Linked DNA regions of Homo sapiens. The protein of the gene in region 2 purifies or fractionates together with the protein of the main gene of each other region. This does not show direct contact. Each region holds a gene or a part of one and is shown on either strand. Other genes may lie near its edges. The genes, in order: AGPAT3, SLC7A1, TSPAN15, TMEM11, SGPP1, MTCH2 and MAVS.

Region 1 (3,500 bases), on a different chromosome or scaffold from region 2:
CCCTCGCTCAAGAGTCCTGGTTTAGCTTCAGCGCCCTCTGCTACAGCTGCCCAAGGGTTAGGCTCCTGAAAGGCAGTGCTGACATTCCATTTCTGCACACCCCGGTTTTTGCTAAAGGGATTTGGTGGAAGGGTGGAGCTGAGAGGTTTTTGTTTCCTTACTGTGAGCCCAGAAATGCATTAAAAAGCCAGTTTCAGGCAGGATTTAGCTGTTTTGTAGTATTTTAGCTTCAGAATACTGCTAGAAAGTAGGAGTCTGTAATTTAGTTTTCATCAGTTAATATTTGCCCTTTTTGTATGTATTCATCTTATCCAGTTATACTCATGAATAACTCATTTGTATATTTTATATTATAGGATTTCCAATTCTCCCTTCCCACAGAAAAAAGCAGCAGCCTTTCATTTAAAAAAGGAAACAAACTGGCCGGGCGCGGTGGCTCACGCCTGTAATCCCAGCACTTTCGGAGGCCGAGGTGGGCAGATCACGAGGTCAGGAGATCAAAACCATCCTGGCTAACACAGTGAAACCCCGTCTCTACTAAAAATACAAAAAAAATTAGCCAGGAGTGGTGGCGGGTGCCTGTAGTCCCAGCTACTCGGGAGGCTGAGGCAGGAGAATGGCGTGAACCCAGGAGGCAGAGCTTGCAGTGAGCCGAGATCGCACCACTGCACTCCAGCCTGGGCAACAGAGCGAGACTCAGTCTCAAAAAAAAAAAAAAAGAGAAAAAACAAACCAGGAACTGAAGCTATAACACATTTAAGACAAGCTAGTCTAAGGGCTGGGTTACTAGTCTCTCTGCAGACAGTGGGGTGTCGCAGGCATGAAAAGTTAGCTGACATAAACAGCCTTTTCAGCAGTGCTACCGGCTCCTGAACTGGAAGGAGATCGTGCAGACAAGGTTACAGGCCAGCCATTTCCCATATGAGACAAAGTGTCTATGCGCTCACCATTTCCTACATGAGACAAAGTGTATACGCGCTCACCGTTTTCCATATGAGACAAAGTGTATGTGGGTTCACCATTTCCCACATGAGACAAAGTATCTATGCGCTCACCATTTCCCACATGAGACAAAGCGTATACGCGCTCACCGTTTCCCATATGAGACAAAGTGTATGTGGGTTCACCATTTCCCACGAGACAAAGTGTCTACGCGCTCACTGTTTTCCATATGAGACAAAGTGTATACGCGCTCACCGTTTCCCACGAGACAAAGTGTCTACGCGTTCACTGTTTTCCATATGAGACAAAGTGTCTACGTGCTCACCCTTTCCCACATGAGACAAAGTGTCTATGCGCTCACCGTTTCCCATATGAGACAAAGTGTATGTGGGTTCACCATTTCTCACGTGAGACAAAGTGTCTACGCGCTTACCGTTTCCCACGAGACAAAGTGTCTATGCGCTCACCGTTTCCCATATGAGACGAAGTGTCTATGCGCTCATGCAAAAACATGGAAACAGCATGAGAGTGTGAAATAAAACGTAAGAATCCCCTCCTTTCCCCACTCCCTGGATATCAGCATCACGCAGTTTTCTCGGGCATCCTTCTGAGATTTTTGTTTTCTTTTTTTTTTTTTTTAGACAGAGTCTTGCTCTGTTGCCCAGGCTGGAGTGGTGCAGTGGTGTGATCTCAGCTCACTGCAGCCTCCACCTCCCAGGTTCAAGCAGTTCTCCTGCCTCAGCCTCCCGAGTAGCTGGGATTACAGGTGTGTACCACCATGCTCAGCTAATTTTGTATTTTTAGTAGAGACAGGGTTTCACCATGTTGCTCAGGCTGGCCTTGAACTCCTGACCTCAGGTGATCCACCTGCCTCAGCCTCTCAAAGTGCTGGGATTACAGGCATGAGCCACCATGCCCAGCCCCTTCTGGGATTTTTCCACACATGTACACACCACACACACAGCATCCTTTCTTAAGACACAAAATGAATCATAGCATACTATGGACTTTGTTGTATACTTCCTTTTTCGCTTAAAACTGTACGGGCAAGATGAAGGCTCTCCATGATGGCCGCAGAGGGTCCCTGTATGGGTGCCGCATAATTAGTCTCCAGTGACAGGTGCTTGGGTTGCTTCTAGTTTTGTGCTACTATAAAAATAATACAATAATGAGAATACCTGTGATAAAATGAGAACACCTGTCCAGTTGCATACTTTTGCACATCTCTGTAGGTTGCATGTTATTCTGTGGAATTGCTGAGTTGAAAATTGCAACCACTTAAACTGTTGACGGCCACTGCCAAACCACCCTCCAGAGATGCGCCTGTTCATGTCCCCACGACGCCCGGTGTGAGCGGTTACCTGTCCACAGTGGGTGTTGTTACCAAGCCTCTGAGTCTCTGTCCACATGACAGGTACAGATCGGTTTCTCTATGTATAATACACATACGCACAGAGGCACATACGGACAGACACACAGCTACACATGTGTTTGATACGCAGGGAGGCAGGACACCTTTTCTTTCAGGGATGCATGCTGAAATACGCGTCAGCATGCTCTGGTGTTGGCGCAGTGTGGGCAGGACACACGAGGGGCCATGTAGGGAGCTGTTGGAGCTTGGTAACGGGTAAACAGAACTCAACATTCTCTTTACTTTTGTTTAAACATTCCCATATGCTCTGGTAAACCGTGGGAAGCTGCCATTGCTATGGGTCAGAATGGTGAGAGTGGCACGTCACACAGCTCAAGCTAAGAAAAAGAGGTAGCCAGGTGCCTTCCGACAGCCTGCCAGCCAGATGGCCTCGGCACCTCCTGCATAGCCCTCACTTCCTGCCTGAGAGCCCACGGCTGCCCCGTGCATGGTCGCGCGCCACCCCCACGGGAGCCCCAGGCGGCAGGGACTGGCCCAGCAGACACTCACGGCTCCAGAGTGAGTAGGCGAGGCGGCAGTTGAGGCGGCGGTAGAGCTGCTTGCTGACCGGCCAGAGCGCCAGCGTGCACAGCTGGACGAAGTTGATGACCAGACCACTCACCACGAAGACAAAGCCGACCAGCAGGTGCAGCACGAACTGGGTCTTCAGGAAGGCCAGCAGGCCCATGGCGCTGCTCAGGAGCGGGTGCACGGCCCCTCGCTGAGGACAGCCGTCCTGCAAAGACAGGGACAGGGACAGCGTCAGGGTGGCCACGCCCACACCCTCACAGGAACACCGGGGCACTGCTCACTGCACACCCCGCACATGCCTCACGCTTATACACACATGCTGCACAGCACACTGCAAACCCCACACACGTGCCACACACATACAAACCACACACATGCCACACACACCACACTGCAAACCACACACACGCCACACACCACAAACCACACACACACCACTGCAAACCACACGTCACACACACACCACAAACCACACATGCCACACACATACCACACACACGCCACACACACACAACCACACACACGCCACACACCACAGCTCATCACAAACCCCACACATGCCACACACATGCCACACACACCGCAAACCACACACCACACACACACCACATCACAA
Region 2 (3,500 bases):
AGCTCCCCACCCTAGTGGCATCTCCCATAGGCTCCAAAGCACTCTCCCTCCACAGAGAAGACGCAATCACAGAGGAGCCCATGACATCCACCCTGCCTGGGCCTAGTGCCCGTACCAATTTGGTGCTGGGCAGGCCAGGGGGCCAGGAGGCACAGGCCAGACTTTCCTGTCTGGGGTGAAAATAACTGGTACCTTATCTGCAGCAGACTCATCACCTTGTTCCTGTTAATATCAAGGTCTTGCCCAAAAGAATAAATAGTTTGGACAAGAAGCAATGGAAACAAAAAGTATCTAACAGGGAGGAGAGGACTCACAGCCTACCAGGGATTCAGCATTATCTTCGAGAAAGCTGCTGACTGGATGTGCGTCATTCTGTTATGAAATCTGAAACAAGGGAGACCCCCAGGGGAAGCCAGGATCTTGGACGTGCTGGCAGCAGCATCACATACCTATCAGCATCCACACAGCAAACCGGACCCAGGTGCCCTGGTCCAGCTGCATCATGAGATAGACGTTCACGAAGATGCTCAGGATGGGGAGCACTGGCAGGAAGGGAACCTGAAGAGACAGGAGGTGGCTTCAATCCATGGCAGTGGCGCCGGTTCCAATAGTTCAGTAAAACTGTCTAGTAAAGGCAGCACAACTGAGAGTGACAGGGACCGTCGGGCGAGTGTGGGGAAGAGAGAGGGAGTGCCCACCCCCACTCCCACACCCCACACACAGCCCGCACCCAAACACACACACAAACACACCCAAGGGTACATCTTAGTAGGTGGGGATTTGATTCTAAGCTCTGAATGGCCAAATGAACTCCATTCTCATTTTTCTCTGTTGCGATTCTCCTGCTAAAGAAAGGACTAGAAGACGGACCTCCACTTTACCTCTAAGGTCAACAACCTTTTTTATTATTTGTGTAATCTAAAAATGCAGAAGCCTTGCCCGTCTCCAAGGCTTGGAAAACTCATGCATCAACTTGAGCAGACATTTACGAGAAGCATCCCACCACCCCGGAGGGACTGCTCCACTGGGTCTGCTATTATGTATAAACTTAGGGGCAAGTGGCTTCATGAGCAGCACCCTTGATACTGTCTGGGGAAGAGGCAGCACATTTCATAAAACACTGATCACAAGGGACATTTATTTTCCAGAGAATTCAGAAATAGATGCCGAATATCCAGGGACTGGCGAGGTCTCTCTTGGCCTGTGTCATGCAGGAAGGTGTCAGCCTGCCCTTGACTACTCAGGGAAACGTCCAGGGGAGAAGGGCTGCTGCCTCCTTCCAGGGTCTGGTCCTCTCTGTGCCTTCAGGACCCCTGCCCCATCTTACCTGAAGCTGGCTAGCAAAAACCTTCCTCGGGAGCACCCAGGCCCGGCTGAGCCCACGCAGGGCTGGCCAGGCATCAGGAGGGCCAGGGTCTGTGTACCAGGGTTCCTTCCCTAGGCCGAGCTGCTCACCTTAAATGAGAGCTTGGTCTTGCTCTCGGGCTGCCTCCAGATGACGCCCGTGACCACGGCACAGAGGAGGGCAGACCCTGCGAGCAGAAAGACTGCCCACAGCGCCCCTTTGGTGAGAGCCTCCCTTCCAAGCACGGTCACAATGCAGAAGGTGATGATGAGAACAGCTAAGGGGGAAGGAAAAGACAGCAAGCTGCAACTCAACCATTTCCCAATTTCCCACAGGCATCCACTGTTCTCCCCTAAACTTGTGGAGAGAGAGGCTCCATTTCCGAAGGCACAACTACAGTTAACACAGAGTAACTATGTCCCAGTCCAGGAGCAAGACAGATGCTCATCTTCTCTGGCACCTTCCCCCAACTCCAGCTCCACTGCCTAGAAACCATGCAATGCCAACAAGCAAGGCCCCAGGGAAGGGCTAGCTCTTACCTATGAGGCTGGTTGAAATGTTCACAATTAGCCCAGAGATTTTGGAAGGCTCCATGTTTTTGGGTGAGAGTATGGTTTTCAAAGAGAACATCTCTGCCTCTGGTAAAAAGCCCAGCTGGGAATCATTGGTGCTTGCCAATTCATTTTGGTCTGCTGGATCTAACTCGTCGGAAGTACTGGCCATCTGGTATACCAGGTTAGGCTGCTCTGGCTGGTACCTGGGAAGAAAGGCATTGCGTGACCGCCACATCTGCTTCAAGCAAAATGACGTGCACCAACTCAAGTTCTCAATAAGCCTCCAAAGTGAGCTGCCCGGGACACAAGGTATAAAATGGGAAGGATATAGTCAAATGCTGCATTGTAGATAGACGAGGAGAGACCGGGAACACCACCTCCCGCTGTTGCTTCTGGGGAACATCCTCCATGGTCTCTCCTTCGGGGCGACATGACCTCCACCATGAGCAGCCCAGAGGAATACCCTGAGAGGATCTCTCTTGCTCTGAGAAGTGGCAGCGGCCCTCAGATGCTAAAGATACTAGGCCACTTCCCACAAAATTACTGCTGTAGGGAGCAAAAGGGAAGGAGAGAAATAGGAAGCAGTAATGCCAGGATCCTATTTGGCACAGAGAGCCAGAGAAATGTGGCTGCAGGCTAGATGGATTTGAGAAATTCTATTTGTGTGACTTAATTGGATCAATTTATTTTAAAACTCCAAGTACCTTAGGGTAAATAATTCTATGTGGCTTGTTGGAGGGCCGAGCCTGCAGCGTGATTTCCAAGACATGAGCTACCTGCTAGTGGAGCATCCATTCTGAATGAGGTGCCTTATCTTCCCACCCGAAATGAACAGAGTGCAAATCTTTTCCACCAGCTTTGAAACACAGAGTTCTGTATGAATTATTTTGCATATGATCAATTCTAAGAGGGAGTATAAAGATATTAACCATTTTTGTATGGATTCACTTGTGCAACCCCACTCGGTCAATTAAGAAAGTGGGAGACCTCAGAGAATATTCTAGCATTGGGCCCCTTGGGAGGAATAAGGGGTCCCCAATAGTCTTAGCTGATTCTAAAGAGCTTCTGCTAAGGCTCAGCCCGGGTTTTATGTGCATCAGCTGCTGAACACCTTGGAAATGCAATCAATGGCCTTGCAGGTGGGAATCCCTGAAAAGAAATGAGGAGGCTCTTGAGGGGAGACCAGTGCTGAGCGTCTCCATGAGCACAGGTTCTCAGGATGGAAGCTGCGCAGGGATGTGCTTTGGGAGTGGGTGCTGAGGCAGGTGAGAACACCGAGACACCAAGCCTAGGCCCAGAGCAGCTTTACTGTGACTGGGAGAGGCTTGCCTGGCCCCCACCAGGCTATAACAAGCTGACTCCACAGTGTCTCTGAACATCAACCTAGGGCACGCCATGCCACATAATGGGATTCATTCCTCCAGCCACAGCGCAACGAAGCTGCAGAAGCATTATGCTGAGCTGGGTTTCACAGGCCTTGGGTTTTCCTAACTCCTACCAGGGCAGCCCTCAATCCTCTCTGTCCCAAGAATCTGAACCAAGTTGCAATCAGTCTTCAAACCTTCTGATCCCAGGATCCTGGCCTAATAGTTGGACCGAGA
Region 3 (3,500 bases), on a different chromosome or scaffold from region 2:
TGTCTTTAACAGCCCTTCTCATTCTTAGTCTATGGCTCTTGAGCAGCAAGGCTAGAGAGGAAGGCAGGAAAAGAACGACTAATCCATGACTAGTTGATGGAGTGTTCATCATGTGCCAGGCACCACTCTAAGCTCTTCAGATGTATTAATCCATCTAATCTGCTTAGCAACTCTTCAGGTAGGTTAGGTGCATGGAAGTTATGTCTAGGCCACTTAACCTTTAAGTGTCAGAGCTGGGATTTGAACCCAGGCAACCTGGTACACAGCCCACACTCTTAACCATTAAACTATAAGAAATGTAAGAAATCACAGGCCAAGCTCTAATAAGCAGGTTCATCCTTGGAGAAAGCCCAGAAAGAGTTCCTATTGCCTCTGGCATTTGCTGCCTCCACCACCTACCCACCCTCAGCTCCTCCCTACTTGCCCCCAACTCCCACCAAGTCCTTTTCTTCCTGATTAGTCAACACTCCCCAGCCATGACACCTTTACCCACTTGAAAGTCCTACCCTGTTATCAAGGAAACAGGCTTGGTGCTCTGTGGAGAGTCCGTAGCACCATGATCAGCCCTGCCCACTTTGCAAAGTCAAGGCCTCAGCAGACCTGACCACTGCGGGTTACACCCCCAGCCAGGCCTCTGCCCCAAGCTGGATCCTCGCCTTGTAGGTACAAGTGGGACTCAATCACCATCATGCAACATGCCTCCCCTGAGCACCTACTGTGTGCACAGGCCCCAGGGGCAGCATTCAGAGGAGGATATGGATGAACTACAATCCTGACCTCTGGGAGCCCACAGTCCAGCAAGGAAAAGCAGTCCTGTAAACGGATCTCTAAGATACCCCGTGGGCAGTGCTAAAATTAGAGGTGTGTCCCCAATGGGCTGAGGGCGCATGTGTCAGAATGATTCACCCTGTGTGGTGGGAAAAGGAGGCTCTAAGTGCCTCAGCGTGAGCTCATTTCTCCCGCAGACATCCCCATGACTTACTGGAAGGGCCAAGGAGCACCTACCTGAGGATGCAGGGACCTGGGGTACATGCCAGCTCTGACAAGTGAGCCTCAAACACACCCTTTTGCAGCCCCAAAGTTCCCTGCCGAAAACAAGAGGGCCCTGAGTGTGGGACAGATAACCATAAGTGGTTTAGGGGTATACCTATCATAGGGACTTACAGACTGAGCTTTCCTCGTTCAATGCCCTTTCGACCCCTCCGATTGCATCAAGGAGCGGGTCTCAGTTTGGGTGCTAGTTTGTCTTTCAGCCCCTCAAGCACTTGCCAACCTACCTTTTGAACAGAGAGGGTAGGCGTCAGGGTCACAGCCTTCAGCACCCATGACATCCAGCTAGGATTTAGTATCATTGTTTTGTTTTCCCTGTACTGTACTTATTTTAAACCTTTACCTGCTATTTATGATGGGCGTCTTGGTTTCCCATTCATAATACTGATATAAAGCCTCCTTTTAAAAATAAATTTAAAGGCGTGCATATTCAGGGCAACTTGAACCTATGTGCCTGGAAAATAAAAAATATATACTTTAAAAAAGGGAAAAAAAGGAAAAGAAATTTAAGTTTAAAAAGGAAGTTTAGGCTGGACACAGTGACTCACGCCTGTAATCCCAGCACTTTGGGAGGCCCAGGCTGGTGGATCATTTAAGGTCAGGAGGTCGAGACAGTCTGGTCAACATGGTAGAACCCCGTCTCTACCAAAAATACAAAAATTAGCCCATCGTGGTAGTAGGCGCCTGTAGTCCTAGCTACTCGGGAGGCTGAGGCAGGAGAATCGCTTGAGCCTGGAAGGCAGAGGCTGCAGTGAGCCAAGATCACACCATTGTACTCCAGTCTAGGTGAAAGAGCGAGGCTCTGTCTCAAAAAAAAAAAAAAGTAAGTAAATTTAAATAAACATATTAAGTAAATAATATTACAATTGGTGTCACCTCTATATAGGACAATTTAATAACATCAAAATGTTAAATGCACATACAAAAACAGGCAAAGCTATTCTATACTGCTAGATAATCCAGTGGTGATCACCCACAAAGGTAAGAGATAGTGCCTAGAAGAGGGTTTGAGGGGTATCTGCCTTCTGCTGTCCATTCTGCTGGTTGACCTGGGGGCTCAGTGTACAGGTGTGTTCACTTTGTGAAAACTCATCAAGCTGTATATACTGATGGCAGGTGCGTGTCTGCATGTATAACATATATTCATATACCCCTTAACTCAACAACCCCACTCCTAGAATTACTCCACAGACATATACACCCATGCAAAATGACACATTCAGAGATACTCACTGTGTCACTGTTCTCAGTGAAAGAAAGAAAGGAAGAAAGAAAGAGACGGGGGGGGGAGAGAGAGAGAGAGAGAGAAAGAAAGAAAGAAAGAGAAAGAAAGAAAGAAAAGAGAAAGAAAGAAAGAGAGAGAGAGAAGAAAGAAAGAAAGAGAAAGAAAGAGAGGGAAAGAAAGACTGGGAACAACCTAAGAGTTCCCCAGCTGGGGACTATTAAATAAATGTGGCATAGCCTAGAGTGGAATCTATGTAGCCAACACACAGAATGAGGCAGCTCCTAGCAGATCTCCATAATTCACGTGGATTTAAATTTAAGTGAAAGAGGGGCTACATACGTAGTTCTGTGTATAGTGTGCTACCTTATTTTAAATATACATATGTTTGTCCTAGGACATCCTTTGACTACGATAGCTCAGAAAAGAGTGACAGGAAACTGATAACAAAGGCCTCCTCTGGACTGGGCAGGCCAGGAGAGAGGGGTAGGAGGGGAGGCTTGTCACTAACCACTACCCTTTCCTTTTTTTTTTTTTTTTTTTTGAGACTGTCACCAGGCTGGAATGCAGTGGCGCTATCTAGGCTCACTGCAACCTCCGCTTCCCGGGTTCTAGCGTTTCTCCACCTCAGCCCTCGCTGTAGCTGAAACTACAGGCACACGCCACCATACCCAGCTAATTTTTGTATTTTTAGTAAAGACGGGGTTCCGCCATGTTGGCCAGGACGGTCTTGATCTCTTAACCTCACGATCCGCCCGCCTCAGCCTCCCAAAGTGCTGGGATTACACCTCACCCGGCCTTACCCTTTTCTACTTCTAAATTTTGTAACAAGCCCATGCATGCATTTCTATCAGTAGTAATTTATTTTTTATTTTTTATTTTCTGCAACAGAGTCTCATGCAGGCTGGAGTGCAGTGGCACAATCTCAACTCACTTCAACCTCCGTCTCCTGAGCTCAGGTGATCCTCCTACCTCAGCCTCCCAAGTAGCTGTGACTACAGGTGCATGCCACCACGCCCAGCTAATTTTTGTATTTTTAGTAGAGACAGAGTTTCATCATGTTGCCCAGGCTGGTCTCGAACTCCCAGGTTCAAGCAATCTGCCCATCTTGGCCTTCCAAAGTGCTAGGATTACAGGCATGAGCCACAATGCCTGGTCAATAGTAATTTTTTTTTTTAAACCGAGTCTTACACTGTCACCCAACTACAGTGCCGTGGCACGATGTCAG
Region 4 (3,354 bases), on a different chromosome or scaffold from region 2:
GCACACCTGGCTGCGGTGCAGAGGAGAGTCATGGGGAGCTGAGCCACCTGGCCATTGGCCGTAATATGGGAGTGACGAGTGAAGACATTCATAACAAGCCACCCCAGAACCTCAGCCCAGCATGAAGGTAACTCCCTCCAGCCTCCTTCAAAGATGGGAGCAATTCCAAGTGAAGGATGGTGGAAATCGGACTGTCGGGAAACTTCAAGGAAAAAGAACAGGCAATCGTAGTTCTTCCTACTACTGAGACTCCTCCCAGCTCAAAGCTTTCAGCAAACAAATAAGCAAACCTAACAGGCAGGGTTGCATTCTGGTTGGATAAACAACTAGTTAACGATCTCATGTGGCCACATTAAAGATGAAAGTCATTGGTAATGGGCTGACTGTGCCCCCAAGCATGGGGACCCTAACCCCGCCCCTGGGTGGGAACCACTTTCATAAAAGGCACTGGCTTGGACTTGGGCAAACGGAACTCTTTATCCTGAAAAAGTCACTGTAACTAAGCCAGGCTAAGGCAAAGCCTCCTAATTCAATCATAGGCCCTAATTAAACGGCATGCACTGGGGAGAAATCAGTGCCCTGAGGGTGGGACAAGAGCCTCCTAAACATGGGTTGCTGCCAAGCCACCTGTGACTGTGCCAGTGTCACGGCTGCCTCGCCAGGGATGAAATGATGAGCTGTTACTGTAAGACTGCACGAGCAGCTTATGAAATGGGGAAAGGAGGGTTTTCCTTCTAAAGTTCTCGGTGGAGTTTTTCCATTTGGTCTTAGAGGAGAGGTAAGGGAGAGGCCAGCTGTTACTTCCAGGTAGGATTCAACAGTTTTTATTTTTGAGACAGGTTCCTGCTCTGTCACCCAGGCAGGAGTGCAGTGGTGTGATCTCTGCTGATGGCAGCCTCGACCTCCCGGGTTCAAGAGATCCTCCCACCTCTGCCTCCCGAGTAGCTGGGACTACAGGTATGTGCCACCACGCCTGGCTGCCTGGCTAATTAAAAAAATTTTGTTGTACAGATGGGGTTATGCCATGTTGCCCAGGCTGGTCTCGAACTCCTGGGCTCAAGTGTTCCACCCGCCTTGGCCTCCCAAAGTCCTGGGATTAACAGGCATGAGCTACCGCATCCAGCCAGATGCAGCATTTTAGAAGCTACCTACAGCAAACAAGCACACCCAAAGCAGGGTCTTCACTGGCGCTGGAAAGCTGAAGGCCGAGCAGTGCCCCCACGTGCTCAGATGAGAAATGAGTGGCGGTGGCGCAATGGGCTGGCTGTGGCCCTGGGTGTGCGGGGAGGGGCGGGGCCTCCACTCTCAGGTGGGAGCACTCCTGGCCAAGAGAACTCCCTTCTGGTCTCAAGTCCATCAGGCAACAGGAGCAGAGAGGCCAGATAACAAGGTAGGGGTGGAGGACCAAATCGTGTCCCAATCTTGAGACGGAAATGGAGTTGCTTCCAAGTCAGCTGTGCATCCTACTGACTGTCAAAGCCAGGCCAGGGACACCTTGGGGCGGGCACCAGAGGCGGGCTTCCTCCCTCAGGAACACTCAAAGCAAAAGGGAGGTGTCAAGCTGGGGTTACACAATGTTCTCGCCAACACCCAAATCCACCCTAGTGCGGTACCTTTCTCTGCCCAGCAGGCCAGCGCCATCCTGAATGTAGTGAAAACCACTGTTGGTCCCACAGAGGAAATTCCAGTGGAAACCCCGGTCCTGGAACCGACTGCCCCATCTGGAAACACAGCAGTGGGCAGATCCCACCCCCTCACCCCCTCCGGCCCCCCTGCAAGCCCAGCTGGCACCCACATCCACCCAGACCCCTCTGCAGGCTCCATCGCTTGCTGGGACGGATGGGTGGGTGCGTCCACGAGTCCCAACCAGCCTGGAAGCAGCGAGAAGCCAAGGCCCTCCAGGCTCCCTCCCACCTCACTGCTGTTGCCAGGTGTGGCCCGCCCCCCAGCACAGGGAGTGAGGAGACTGGGCATCCTCTGCCCTCGGCTGTGGGCAGTCCTGTGAATGACACAGCCATAAGCAAGCACGTGGACATGGGGGCACTCGCCAGCACACATCCTGAGATGGTGGCGTGGGTCTGCCCCCACCTGCCTGTCAAACCATGGCCCCGGCCTCCTGCAGCCTCGGCGTCTTCATATGGGCTGGGCACTGTTGCTGCCCACTGTCTAAGACACCTATCCACAGCAGAAACACAAAGGACATAAGCCACACTGCCTTCAAACAAAGGCAGGGTCCTGCACAACGGCGCTGAGGCCAGAGGCTCACCAATTCTGCTTTTAAAGCCAGTTAGGCAAAGGGAATCTCGGTTTCCACTGGGAAAGGACAACACGTGAAGTCTAGGGAAGTGGATTTCTAGGATTCTATAAGGCAACAGACCCTATATGGAGACGGTAAGGTTCAAACCAAAACACACACAGACGCACCCAAAGCCGCAGGATCCCTCCGTTGGAGCTCACCCGGCCACGACCAGGCAGTCAGCACTCCAACTTCCTGGTACACTGGTGGGAGTGGGGTGCTGTCAGTGCAGACACAGGTTTTTTAGCTGCCACTGCTGGGCCCTTGGGTTCAGGTCTGCACTGCTGACAGGGACTGCTGCACTTCTCTTACTTCAGAAATTCGTGGCCATGACCAGGTGCGGTGGCTCACGCCTGTAATCCCAGCACTTTGGGAGGCAAAGGTGTGCAGATCACTTGATGTCAGGAGTTCGAGACCAGCCTGGCCAACAAGGTGAAACCGTCTTTACCAAAAATTAGCCAGGCGCGGTGCTGCACACCTGTAATTACAGCTACTCAGCAGGCTGAGGCACAAGAATCACTTGAACCTGGGAGGCAGAGGTTGCAGTGAGCCAAGATTGTGCCACTGCACTCCAGCCTGAATGACAGAAAGAAAAAAAAGAAAAAAAAAGAAAAAAGAAACTGCCAAGTACTCCCAGGAGACAGCCACGTCCAGCCAGCTCCTGACCACCCAGCAGCCACCCGTATATGGCTTGCTTCTGCTTGTGGGTCAAACAAAACCTAATGAAGGAAAGAACCCAGTCAGAAGGTTATCTCAAACCACTGCAGAGCATCACCAGCTGCCCCCTAACTGGTAAGGCCATGGGCTTTAGGAACTGGGTGATCTGAACCCTGGTGCATGGGAGATCTTTTTTTTTCCTTTTTTTTTTTTTTTTTAAATTATATGGACTTTTTTTTTTTTTTTTAAGTAAGAGCTAGTTGGAATCTTTTGAGCCCTGGGCTTCCTAAGGGACTGTATTTTTGCTTTTCATTGCAGGTGTGAAATGACCAGTAAGAGAGCAATTAATAGAGTCTATGTTTAAAAAAAAAAAAAAAAAGAAAGAAAAAGTGGCCAGGTGC
Region 5 (3,500 bases), on a different chromosome or scaffold from region 2:
CTGGAGGAGGCATTAAACAGTAAACACAAAAGCATGCAAATGATATGATATGTAAATATGTATAAGTTATATAAAATATATAAATCATATAATAAAACCTGATAGGTAACATGGAGAAAATAAAAAGAGAACATGTGTTGAAGAAATAGTAATGCTCATTAATATTCCTTGTGCTCCTCCTACATTTTGGATTCACTTACATTAGGGTCATGCAACTAATTTTGGCCAGTGAGCTGGGGAAAAAAGTGACTTATGCCACTTTCAATCTTCCTTTGAACTCTCTCTTTCCTATAGATGTGACCCTGGGAAACTACATGTTGAGATGCATCACGAGACGGGCAAGCTTCCATCAGCCTAGGTCCTTGAGGGTCAAAGTGGACAAAGCTGTTTGCTAACGCATAATGGATTTGTAACACAAGATTTTTTTTTTTTTGAGATAGGGTCTCGCTCTGTTGCCCAGGCTGGAGTGCAGTGGCATGATCTCGGCTCACTGCAACCTCCACCTCTCAGACTCAAGCGACCCTCCTACCTCAGCCTCCAGAGTAGCTGGGACTAGAGGTGTGCCACCACATCCAGCTGATTTTTTAAAAAATATTTTGCAGAGACAGGGTCTCGCCATGTTGCCCATGACTGGTCTTAAATTCCCGGGCTCAAGCAATTCACCCGCCTTGGCCTCCCACAGTACTGAGATGAGAGGCATGAGCCACCACTCCTGGCCAAGATACAAGATTTTGTTATGTGTTAAGTCATTGCAATTTTGGGATTAAGTCATTGCCACAGTATCAACAAGTCTAACTTAATTAAAACAGATATAAAAATAGGGTCATGAGTTTCAGAGTGTAAATGGGGCAGGTTACAGTATTAAATAGAAGATAGTGTAGGCTTTATTGAGAAGTTGAGATTTGAGGCAAGACGGAATGGAGGTGAGGTGAGTATACTTGCCAAGCAGATTATCTGTGGGAATAGCATATACTAGGCAGGCGAATCAGTGAGCAAAGTTTCTGATCACCAAGTATGACTGGCAAGGAGGCTAGCTGTGGCCATAGCAGAGAGAGCAAGTAGAAGAGGTTAGGGAGGTAATGGGGGGCCAGATCAAGTAGAGCCTGGGAGGCCACCATAAGAAAACTGGCTTCTATTGTGAATCAAATGGGGAGCCACTGCAGGGTTTTGAGTAAAGCTGCTATGTAGAGATTAAATTTTAAGAGAGTAAGGCAAAAACAGGAAGACCAGTTAGAAGGCTGTTGGTATAATCTAGGTAAGAGATAACAGTGGTGTCTGTCTCTACAGCAGGGACTTGACCTTTAAAGTCTTTAAAAACCTTTAAAGTCTAATTTTTAAAAAGCTGTTGACAGCAAAAAAAAAAAAAAAAGAACCAAAAGAAGTAAAAAAAAAAAAAAAGTCAACTTTAAAAAAATCTTTCTGCACTTCCTTCTCTAACTTGGACCCTATAAGGAAGTAGAAATGTACAAAATTACTGATAAGAGTTCTTTATACACAACAAACTGAAGAAAAAATCACCTATAGAGTCTCAGAAGCTAGAGGTGAAGGTAGGACGGGGAAGGGTAGAGATTTTAAATAGGAGCAATGAAACCAAGTATGACTTAACCCACATTTATTCAATTTTACGATGTCCAAGGTGTTTAAAAAGGAGAGATGGAATGTTATCAAGCCAGATGCAGAGGCTAAAGAAGCTATGAGGCTTTCCTTTTCTCTGCTCCATGGCACCTTCAGATTTCACTGGGATGAGGTGACTAAAGAAAACAAAATAAGTCATTTTTATTGACCGACTTTTTTTGGTCATTACTCTCCACCTTTATGATATGTTCTCTAGATTTTTTTATGGAAAAAAAATATTTTGGGGCCAAGCATGGTGGCTCATGCCTGTAATCCCAGCAGCACTTTGGAAGGTCGAGGCAGGCTGATCACTTGAGATCATGAGTTTGAGACCAGCCTGGCCAACAGGATGAAACCTTGTCTCTACTAAAAATACAAAAATTAGCCAGGTGTAGTGGCACGCACCTGTAGTCCAAGCTACTTGGGAGGCTGAGGCATGAGAATCGCTTGAACCTGGGAGGCAGAGGTTGCAGTGAGCCGAGATTGCGCCACTGCACTACAGCCTGGGTGAAGAAGTGAGACTCTGTCTAAAAAAAAATTAAAAAGAAAACATTTTGGGGAACACTTGATCCAGTTCTGACTACATGATGACTTTCATATTTACTCCCCATTGAATAACAGAATTCTGAACTTCTAAGTGTCAAAGTAAAAAAGAATTTCATCAGTAAGCAGACAAAAAAGACTACAGATCTTAATGGCTAAAGGAAATAACAGATAAAGTGATATTTTTTTTTACTGTGCCTAATTTATAAATTAAACTTTATCATAGATACATATGTACAGGAAAAAAACAGTATATATAGCGTTGACTACTATCCACAGTTTCAGGCACCAATGGGGGTCGTGGAACATATCCTCTGCTGATGAGCGGGGCTACTATACCCCCATTCACAGACGAAGTGATCCTAAAGATAGAAAATCCCAAATAATCCATGAAGAAAACATATTAGAATTAATAAATGAATTCAGCAAAGTTGCAGGGTGTAAGATCAACACTCACAAATCAGCTGTGTTTCTACATACCAGCAATAAAAAAAAAACCCTAAAATGAAAGTAAGAAAAATAATTCCACTTTCAGTAGCATCCTAAAGAATAAAATACCCATACCTAGGAATAAACTTAACTAAGGAAGTGAAAGGTTTGTCCATTGAAAACTATAAAACATTACTGAAAGAAATTAAAGACCTAATTAAGGCCAGGCACAGTGGTTCATGCCTATAATCCCAGCACTTTGGGAAGCTGAGGTGGGCGGATCACAAGGTCAAGAGATCAAAACCATCCTGGCCAACATGGTGAAACCCTGTCTCCACTAAAAATACAAAAATTAGCTGGGCGTGGTGGCGCGTGCCTGTAGTCCCAGCTACTTGGGAGGCTGAAGCAAGAGAATTGCTTGAACCCGGGAGGCAGAGGTTGCAGTGAGCTGAGATTGCACCCCGGCACTCCAGCCTGGCAACGGAGCAAGAGAGACTCCATCTCAAAAAAAAAAAAAAAAAAAAAAGACCTAATTAATGAAAAGATATCCCATGTTTATGGATTAGAAGACTTAATACATTAAAACTTAATATGTTAAAATGGCACTATTATCTAAAATGATCTATAGTCAATGTAATCCCTATTTAAGTTTTTTTTTTTTTTTTTTTTTTTGGCGGCAGGTGGGGAGTGGGGTCTCGCTTTATCACCCAGGCTGGAGTGCAATCTAGCAGTGGTTCAATCATAGTTCACCATAGCCTCCAACTCCTGGACTCATGTGATCCTCCCAATGCAGCCTCCCATGTAGCTGGGACTACAGGTGTGCACCACCATACCCTGCTAATTTTTTAATGTTTTATAGAGATGGGGGTCTCGCTATGTTGCCCAGGCTGGTCTCCAACTCCTGGGCTCAAGTG
Region 6 (3,500 bases), on a different chromosome or scaffold from region 2:
CAATAAAAATAAGAACCAAAAAATGTGATCAGTAACATGACAGGCTCTTCAGTACAAATGTTTGTCAAATAATTAGAGGTCACAAAACATTCTAGGGAAGTAAAAAAGGAATCAAACACCAGAATCCAGCCCGCATACCTAGTTCATTCTCGTTAACACAGCTGTACTTGAAGCTGATCTCCAGTGACTTTTGTTCCTATGTTTAAAATGCAGGTCGGCTATACCCTCAGTGGCTCACCTTACTATTCATAACTGTAAGCAGGGAGGCAAAAGATTTGCGAGGTGCTTTGCAGAAGAGACTTAAATATTGTTTTGCTTTGACTAGCTTAAAAAAATGATTTTGCTAAGCTATCTGATATTCATATTTGGCAGAGCAAAAGACGAGAAAAATTACAAAGCAAGAATGGTCCCAAGTACAGATACAGATGAGAGGCATCAAAAACCACATTTCTAGGGTCTGGGTGACCTAGGTGAGGCAGCATGGAATAGTGGGAAGAGCATTTCCCCACGGATTGAAGACCAGCTTCAAATGCCAGCTCCAGCACTCAGCAGCGATGTGACAGGCAGCAGATGAAACTCTCAGAGCATCAATGTTTTTTAATCTCTAAAGTGATACTAATTATAGCTGTCCTGCCTATCTCACAGGGTATTTATGATATTCAAAATCCGTATGGGGAGATACTCTGAAAATTAAAAAAAAAAAAACAAAAAACACCATTTCGGTAATGATGCAAAATTTTTCCTCATAGAAGAATGAGGGTAGTAGTCTAAGTTCTTCCAAAGTAAATTCAAGCCTTGCAAAAACTTACTCTTTTACGGTAAGGAAAATACAAGTTAAGATGATTTCCCCATTTTTCAACATTTAATTTTTCTCATTTTATTATCTATATAGAATTGGGAGTTTACTACAAGGGTAGAAACTTGGAATTAAGTCCTTTGTTAAAAAAAGAAATTCCTTATTTATTTATTAATTATTATTATTTTTTTGAGACGGAGTCTCACTCTGTCACCCGGGCTGGAGTACAGTGGTGCAATCTCAGCTCACTGCAACTTCCACCTCCCGGGTTCATGCAATTCTCCTGCCTCAGCCTCCCGAGTAGCTGGGATTACAGGCACACACCACCACACCTAGAGGTGGGGTTTTACCATGTTGGCCAGGCTGGTCTTGAACTCCTGACCTCAGGTGATCCAACCGCCTTGGCCTCTCAAAGTGCTGGGATTACAGGCGTGAGCCACCACGCCCGGCCTCAAATGTTTTAAGTATCTAGAAGTAAAGGTTTGGGATCTTTACAAGATAATTCTAGTCATATGGGGCCTAAATATGCCTTTCTGCAGAGAAAAAAGAAAAAAAAATAAGGGGCCTAAATAGAATGTAACGTGAGGTAAGCCCAGGGAGTACGTTTTCCCCAAGGATTAAACAAAGACTCACTATTCTTACTTTCAGAAAACGTTTCCCACTCATGCAAAAATTACACACTAATCAACATTTACTCACGCGAAAAATCCTAGAATGCCCTCTTCCCGATAGATGGTTATTATGGAATCACAAAGTCCACTACGTACACAAGAAGAAAAGGTAAAATATATTAAGATTCTTTTGGAGCTATAAACAAAATAATTTCAATTATCACATTGGACAAGGTCAAATCCACGACCTCCTTCCCTCACACTTTTCTAGCACTCTCTCACTCTGCAAAGATAGCTAAATTTGGAGATAGAAGTGAAAATATTAACTACCTAGGGGTATAGTCATATGGAGTCAGGGGCTCTGCAACTTACTCTGAAATCCTACGTAGGCTACTAAACCTGCCTGGGTATATTTTCTCCCATTTTATTGTTTTTTGTGCAGATCAAATGACATCAGATACGAATTTGTTCTACAAATTGTAAGGGTATCATAAAAATACAAAGTAGTATTATTCTAGTACTTTGGCTTCAAAAGATCTCCTTGAGTATGTGAAAACAAAAATACTTACCAGTACTTGGATTCTCTGCCAATGAACTGTACCATAGATCTCAGAGTGATCACTGTGGAATATAGAGAAAAGATGTTTACAACTATGTTAAGGCCAGGTGCGGTGGCTCACACCTGTAATCCCAGCACTTTGAGAGGCCGAGGTGGGCGGATCACCTGAGGTCAGGAGTTCAAGACTAGCCTGACCAATATGATGAAGCCCCATCTCTACTAAAAATACAAAAATTATCCAGGCGTGGTGGCATGCACCTGTAATCCCAGCTCCTTAGGAGGCTGAGACAGGAGTACTGCTTGAACCCGGAAGGCTGAGGTTGCAGTGAGCCAAGATTGTGCCATTGCACTCCAGCCTGGGCAACAAGAGTGAAACTCCGTCTCAAAAACAAAAAACAAACAAACAAAAAAAAACTATGTTAAGATAGATTTTGATAGCCCTGGGAAAAAAAAAGATTTTCCACCTAAAGACATTTTGCTATCTGGATAAATTGGATAAAAGCCAAAACAAGCAAGCAAACAAAAACATGCAGGCAAGGCATTTTAGTCAACTCCCACGTCAACCTATCTAAGTGGTCAGGAGAGATCAGGTTATAAAAGAAAGGTCAGTTGTCAACTGCAAACATACCATGGAAGGGATGTGTGATGAGGGTAGCAGCAGAACGAGCGATCATCTCTCGAGTTGTCTAGAAACAATCAACACACACTTCTGAAATCTAAACAAATGACACTCAAATGCCTGTGAGAAGGAATGTGGGTGGATATCGTGGTATAGGATAAGAAAGTGAATGACACAGCCCTCCTGCCCTGGCTGGAGTCAAGAAGAGTTTGAATGGGATGTGAAAGATCTCATTCATTGTCATTTTATCATACTTTTCACTCATGGATCTCAATGTTCTATTATAGTTACTTCTCAAAATTTCTCTGCAAAGCAGGCTTCTGTTGTTTTCTCAATTTTACAGGTAAGAGAAAAAAATAAAGAAACAGGAAAGGTCACCAACAAAGTCATTAAGCTGAAATAAAAAATATGAGGCCTTTATTGAGATTATTAAGTTGCTCTCTTATTGGTAAGTGATTTTGGAGAGTCTGACATCATTCTAGATAAATGACAGGCTCCATTTAGTCTCTACTCACATTTTTGGGAGAAGAGAACAATTTTGTTTTGTGACTACAACCCAGTAACTGTGCAGTATCTTAGAGCTGCTGTGTTTTTCCTAGTTTATCTTTCTACTCTAGGGCTCTGTAAGGAAGTAATAAAGAAAATTAAATTATAATCTTTGCATTTAGGTTCTGGGATTGCAAATGTAAGCAGGTCTACCATTGGCTTTTGCATTTTTTTTTTTTTTTTAGGACAGTCTTGCTCTGTCACCCACGCTGGAGTGCAGTGGCGCGAACTCGGTTCACTGCAAGCTCCGCCTCCCGGGTTCACGCCATTCTCCTGCCTCAGCCTCCCAAGTAGCTGGGACTACAGGCACCCGCCATCATGCCCGGCTAATTTTTTTTCTTTGTATTTTTTAGTAGAGACGGTTTCACC
Region 7 (3,500 bases), on a different chromosome or scaffold from region 2:
AGGGGTGGCAGGATGGCTCATGCAGAACAGCTCACACCAGCCGAGAGGCCTGGCCATCCCGGAGGCTTGGGAAGAGAGGGGACAAGGACAAAGCCACCCCTGGGAGGCTGCCTGACCTGGGTGGGGGAAGCAGAGGATAGCAGGTGGTGATGGTCTGTAAAGGCAGTTGCAGCAGGACTCTCCACGGAACTCGGAATGCACATGCCAAGCCCCACAGCTGGCAAAAGTCAGGGTGATTCTGATGTACAGCTCCCCCACCACAATCTAATACCACAGAATCTCATGGGACCTGTGTCTACAAACGTACTGAAACCTAAGCGCCCTCTGCCTCTGTGGTCTACAGCAACTCCTGAAAGGCATCCCGTGGCCAGGTGACACTGCAAAGCAGACAGGTGCTTGGAGCAGTTTGGGGATGACAAAAGTACTAAGATGACGTCTCCCAGCCTCTAACTGCTCATGTGTCTTGTGGCTGTCCCAGGGCACTGAGGGCTGACTGGGCACCAGCGTCATGTGGAATAGTTTGGGAAGTAGGAAAGAGACATGCTGGCCTGAGAGGTCCAGATGGACAACTATATATTTCTGAGGGGGAGCACTGACATCTGGAGTTGAGTCCAGGCCACTGGATGATGAAGACCTTACTTCCTCTGGGGACTGAGAAGTTTTCATGATTCACTGGGAACTGGAGATCTCTGCGGTAAGACAGTGCCTAAAGGTTCCCCTGCCAACAGCTGATGCAGCCCTTCACTGTCCCTCTCCCACTGCCCTATAGGCCCTGGCTGTTCCCTACAGTCCCTTTGGCAGAGCGCAAAAATGGCCCTACTTATCTCGCTCATCTCCACCCAGCCCCACTGCACTGTGCCTGTCAGTCCTCCCGTCTAGGGAGGGAGTCTATTTCCCTACTCCTTGAATCTAGGCTGGCCTTATAACTTGCTTTTGCCCACAGAATGGAGCACAGGGGACACTGTGCCAGTTTTGAGCCCTCTCTGAGAACTCTGCCCAGCTGCCATGATGGGTTTGTGTGCTGGAGGATGAGAGACTACATAGAAGAGAACCAAGGTGCTCAGCAAACAGCCAGAGGCAGAACTTATGTATATACCGGTGAGTACTTGAGAGGAAATTCAGCCAAGACCAGAAGAAATGCCCATGTAGGTAGCCCAAATGCCTGACCCACAGGATCATATGCTAAATAAATGGCTGTATTTTAAGCTACTAAAAAAAAAATTTGGAAAACTGGAGTGGACTATTTGTTACACAGCAAATGCTAACTGATACACCCACTAAGGAACTGGTTTGCTTCCTGGGTTGAACTCCCTTTATTCCCACCTTGTCTCCTGTTCAAGGAAGCCAGATGGGGCAACTCTAATTCTTACCCTCACTTGAGAGATCAGAAGGACCCTATAATTCCAGATTCCATGCATACCTGCTGTGTGGGTACTGCCCAGTTCTGTGTCCTGCTCCTGATGCCCGCTGGAGGTCAGAGGGCTGAGGGCTGCCAGGTCAGAGGAGGACTCCAGGGGGCCACCATCTGGATTCCTTGGGATGGCTCTGGGGCTGAGCGTCTGCAGGGCTTGCTCTGAATTCTGCAATGAGGGAAAATATGAATAAGGCAGTTGCCTCTCCCAAGAGCTCACAAAGGGCAGCTTGTGCTCTTGGGGCATCTCCTATAGGCCTCAGCCCACACCATGGAGCACAGGAGCCAGGGGAGCCCTTGCCTGGGTTCTGGTAATTCCCAGACCCTCTGTCCACAGGTGTCCTTACGTCTACCTCACAGAAAACACACAGCATTGCCAGGTGCGGTGGCTCACGCCTGTAATCCCAGCACTTTGGGAGGCAAAGGTGGGCAGATCACCTGAGGTCAGGAGTTCGAGACCAGCCTGGCTGACACGGCAAAACCCCATCTCTACTAAAAATACAAAAATTAGCTGGGCGTGGTGGTGGGTGCCTGTAATCCCAGCTACTCAGGAGGCTGAGGCAGGAGAATGACCTGAACCCAGGAGGCAGAGGTTGCAGTGAGCCAAGATCACTCCACTGCACTCCAGCCTGGGTGACAGAATGAGACACTGTCACACACACACACACACACACACACAAAACTGTGGTCTCCCAGCTGGTTGCTGACAGAGGATTAGGGCTGCCACAGGGTGAAGACCTGGTCAGCAGCCTGGAAGCTGGTCTGGGGCAGATCCCCACTGAGGAAGCCCTAGGGTTCTGAGCAGAGATTAGGCGTGATTTATAGGGGACGGGAGAGGGTTTCTGGAAGGCTCAATGGGCAGAAGTGGGCAGATAGGAACACAAAAGTGGTGGCTCAAGGTAGACTATGAGGACAGACCTCTCCTGGGGACTCTGGCGCCTGGGTCTCCTGGACAGGCATGGGGTAACTTGGCTCCTTCTCTCTGCAGCTGTTGTAGGGGATGCTGTGGGCCGCAGCAGGTGTGGGGGGCCCTGGCCTCTCAGCAGGAAGTGACGGTGGCTCCAGTGGGTCTGGGGGACGGTCCGAGGTCCCTAGAGGACAAAGATGTAGTGATATCAAGAAGGAATCAGGGCTGGGCACAGTGGCTCATGCCTGTAATCTCAGCACTTTGGGAGGCCAAGGCAGGCAGATCACGAGGTCAGATCGAGACCACCCTGGCTAACACAGTGAAACCCCATCTCTACTAAAAATACAACATTATTATTAGCCGGGCATGGTGGCGGGCCCCTGTAGTCCCAGCTACTCAGGAGGCTGAGGCAGGAGAATGGCGTGAACCCGGGAGGCGGAGCTTGCAGTAAGCCAAGATCGCGCCACTGCACTCCAGCCTGGGCGACAGAGCGAGACTCCGTCTAAAAAAAAAAAGAAAGAAAAAAAAAGAAGGAATCAGGGGCTGGGCACGATGGCTCATGCCTGTAATCCCAGGATTTGGGGAGGCCAAGGCAGGTGGATTAGGAGGTCAGGAGTTCAAGACCAGCCTGGCCAACATAGTGAAACCCCGTCTCTACTAAAAATACAAAAATTAGCCAGGCGTGCTGGCAAGCACCTGTAATCCCAGCTACTCAGGAGGCTGAGGCAGAAGAATTGCTTGAACCTGGGAGACGGAGGTTGCAGTGAGCTGAGATCGCGCCACTGCACTCCAGCCTGGGCAACAGAGCAAGACTCCGTCTCGGGGGAAAAAAAGAAAAAGAAGCCAGACGTGGTGGCTCACGCCTGTAATCCCAGCACTTTGGGAGGCCGAAGTGGGTGGATCACCTGAGGTCGTGAGTTCGAGACCAGCCTGACCAACATGGAGAAACCCTGTCTCTACTAAAAATAACAAAATTAGCCAGGCGTGGAGGCGCATGCCTGTAATCCCAGCTACTCGAGAGGCTGAGGCAGGAGAATTGCTTGAACCTGGGAAGTGAAGGTTGCCATGACCTGAGATTGCACCATTGCACTCCAGCCTGGGCAACAAGAGCGAGACTCCGTCTCAAAAAAAAAAAAAAAAAATAGAAGGAATCAGGGACTATAGGGAGGCTGAGGAAGGAGA

What was found.
Region 1: the proteins of SLC7A1 (region 2) and AGPAT3 purify together in Homo sapiens (affinity purification with mass spectrometry; 3 studies listed by BioGRID and IntAct, with this or other methods). This does not show direct contact.
Region 3: the proteins of SLC7A1 (region 2) and TSPAN15 purify together in Homo sapiens (affinity purification with mass spectrometry; 3 studies listed by BioGRID and IntAct, with this or other methods). This does not show direct contact.
Region 4: the proteins of SLC7A1 (region 2) and TMEM11 purify together in Homo sapiens (affinity purification with mass spectrometry; 3 studies listed by BioGRID and IntAct, with this or other methods). This does not show direct contact.
Region 5: the proteins of SLC7A1 (region 2) and SGPP1 purify together in Homo sapiens (affinity purification with mass spectrometry; 3 studies listed by BioGRID and IntAct, with this or other methods). This does not show direct contact.
Region 6: the proteins of SLC7A1 (region 2) and MTCH2 purify together in Homo sapiens (affinity purification with mass spectrometry; 3 studies listed by BioGRID and IntAct, with this or other methods). This does not show direct contact.
Region 7: the proteins of SLC7A1 (region 2) and MAVS purify together in Homo sapiens (affinity purification with mass spectrometry; 3 studies listed by BioGRID and IntAct, with this or other methods). This does not show direct contact.

The regions. Positions count from the first base shown.
Region 1 is NC_000021.9:43,959,223-43,962,722, reverse strand, and holds part of AGPAT3 (1-acyl-sn-glycerol-3-phosphate acyltransferase gamma), read right to left. Parts: intron 3,090-3,500; coding exon of another isoform or gene 3,042-3,089; coding exon 2,864-3,041; intron 2,092-2,863; exon of another isoform or gene 1,944-2,091; intron 1-1,943. UniProt on the Homo sapiens protein: Converts 1-acyl-sn-glycerol-3-phosphate (lysophosphatidic acid or LPA) into 1,2-diacyl-sn-glycerol-3-phosphate (phosphatidic acid or PA) by incorporating an acyl moiety at the sn-2 position of the glycerol backbone.
Region 2 is NC_000013.11:29,515,689-29,519,188, forward strand, and holds part of SLC7A1 (high affinity cationic amino acid transporter 1), read right to left. Parts: intron 2,103-3,500; coding exon 1,885-2,102; intron 1,623-1,884; coding exon 1,456-1,622; intron 559-1,455; coding exon 450-558; intron 1-449. UniProt on the Homo sapiens protein: High-affinity, low capacity permease involved in the transport of the cationic amino acids (arginine, lysine and ornithine) in non-hepatic tissues.
Region 3 is NC_000010.11:69,454,465-69,457,964, reverse strand, and holds part of TSPAN15 (tetraspanin-15), read right to left. Parts: intron 1-3,500. UniProt on the Homo sapiens protein: Part of TspanC8 subgroup, composed of 6 members that interact with the transmembrane metalloprotease ADAM10.
Region 4 is NC_000017.11:21,200,808-21,204,161, forward strand, and holds part of TMEM11 (transmembrane protein 11, mitochondrial), read right to left. Parts: intron 1-3,354. UniProt on the Homo sapiens protein: Plays a role in mitochondrial morphogenesis.
Region 5 is NC_000014.9:63,700,566-63,704,065, forward strand, and holds part of SGPP1 (sphingosine-1-phosphate phosphatase 1), read right to left. Parts: intron 147-3,500; exon of another isoform or gene 1-146.
Region 6 is NC_000011.10:47,629,060-47,632,559, forward strand, and holds part of MTCH2 (mitochondrial carrier homolog 2), read right to left. Parts: intron 2,653-3,500; coding exon 2,595-2,652; intron 2,029-2,594; coding exon 1,977-2,028; intron 1,556-1,976; coding exon 1,496-1,555; intron 1-1,495. UniProt on the Homo sapiens protein: Protein insertase that mediates insertion of transmembrane proteins into the mitochondrial outer membrane. Catalyzes insertion of proteins with alpha-helical transmembrane regions, such as signal-anchored, tail-anchored and multi-pass membrane proteins.
Region 7 is NC_000020.11:3,860,334-3,863,833, reverse strand, and holds part of MAVS (mitochondrial antiviral-signaling protein), read right to left. Parts: intron 2,503-3,500; coding exon 2,330-2,502; intron 1,581-2,329; coding exon 1,421-1,580; intron 1-1,420.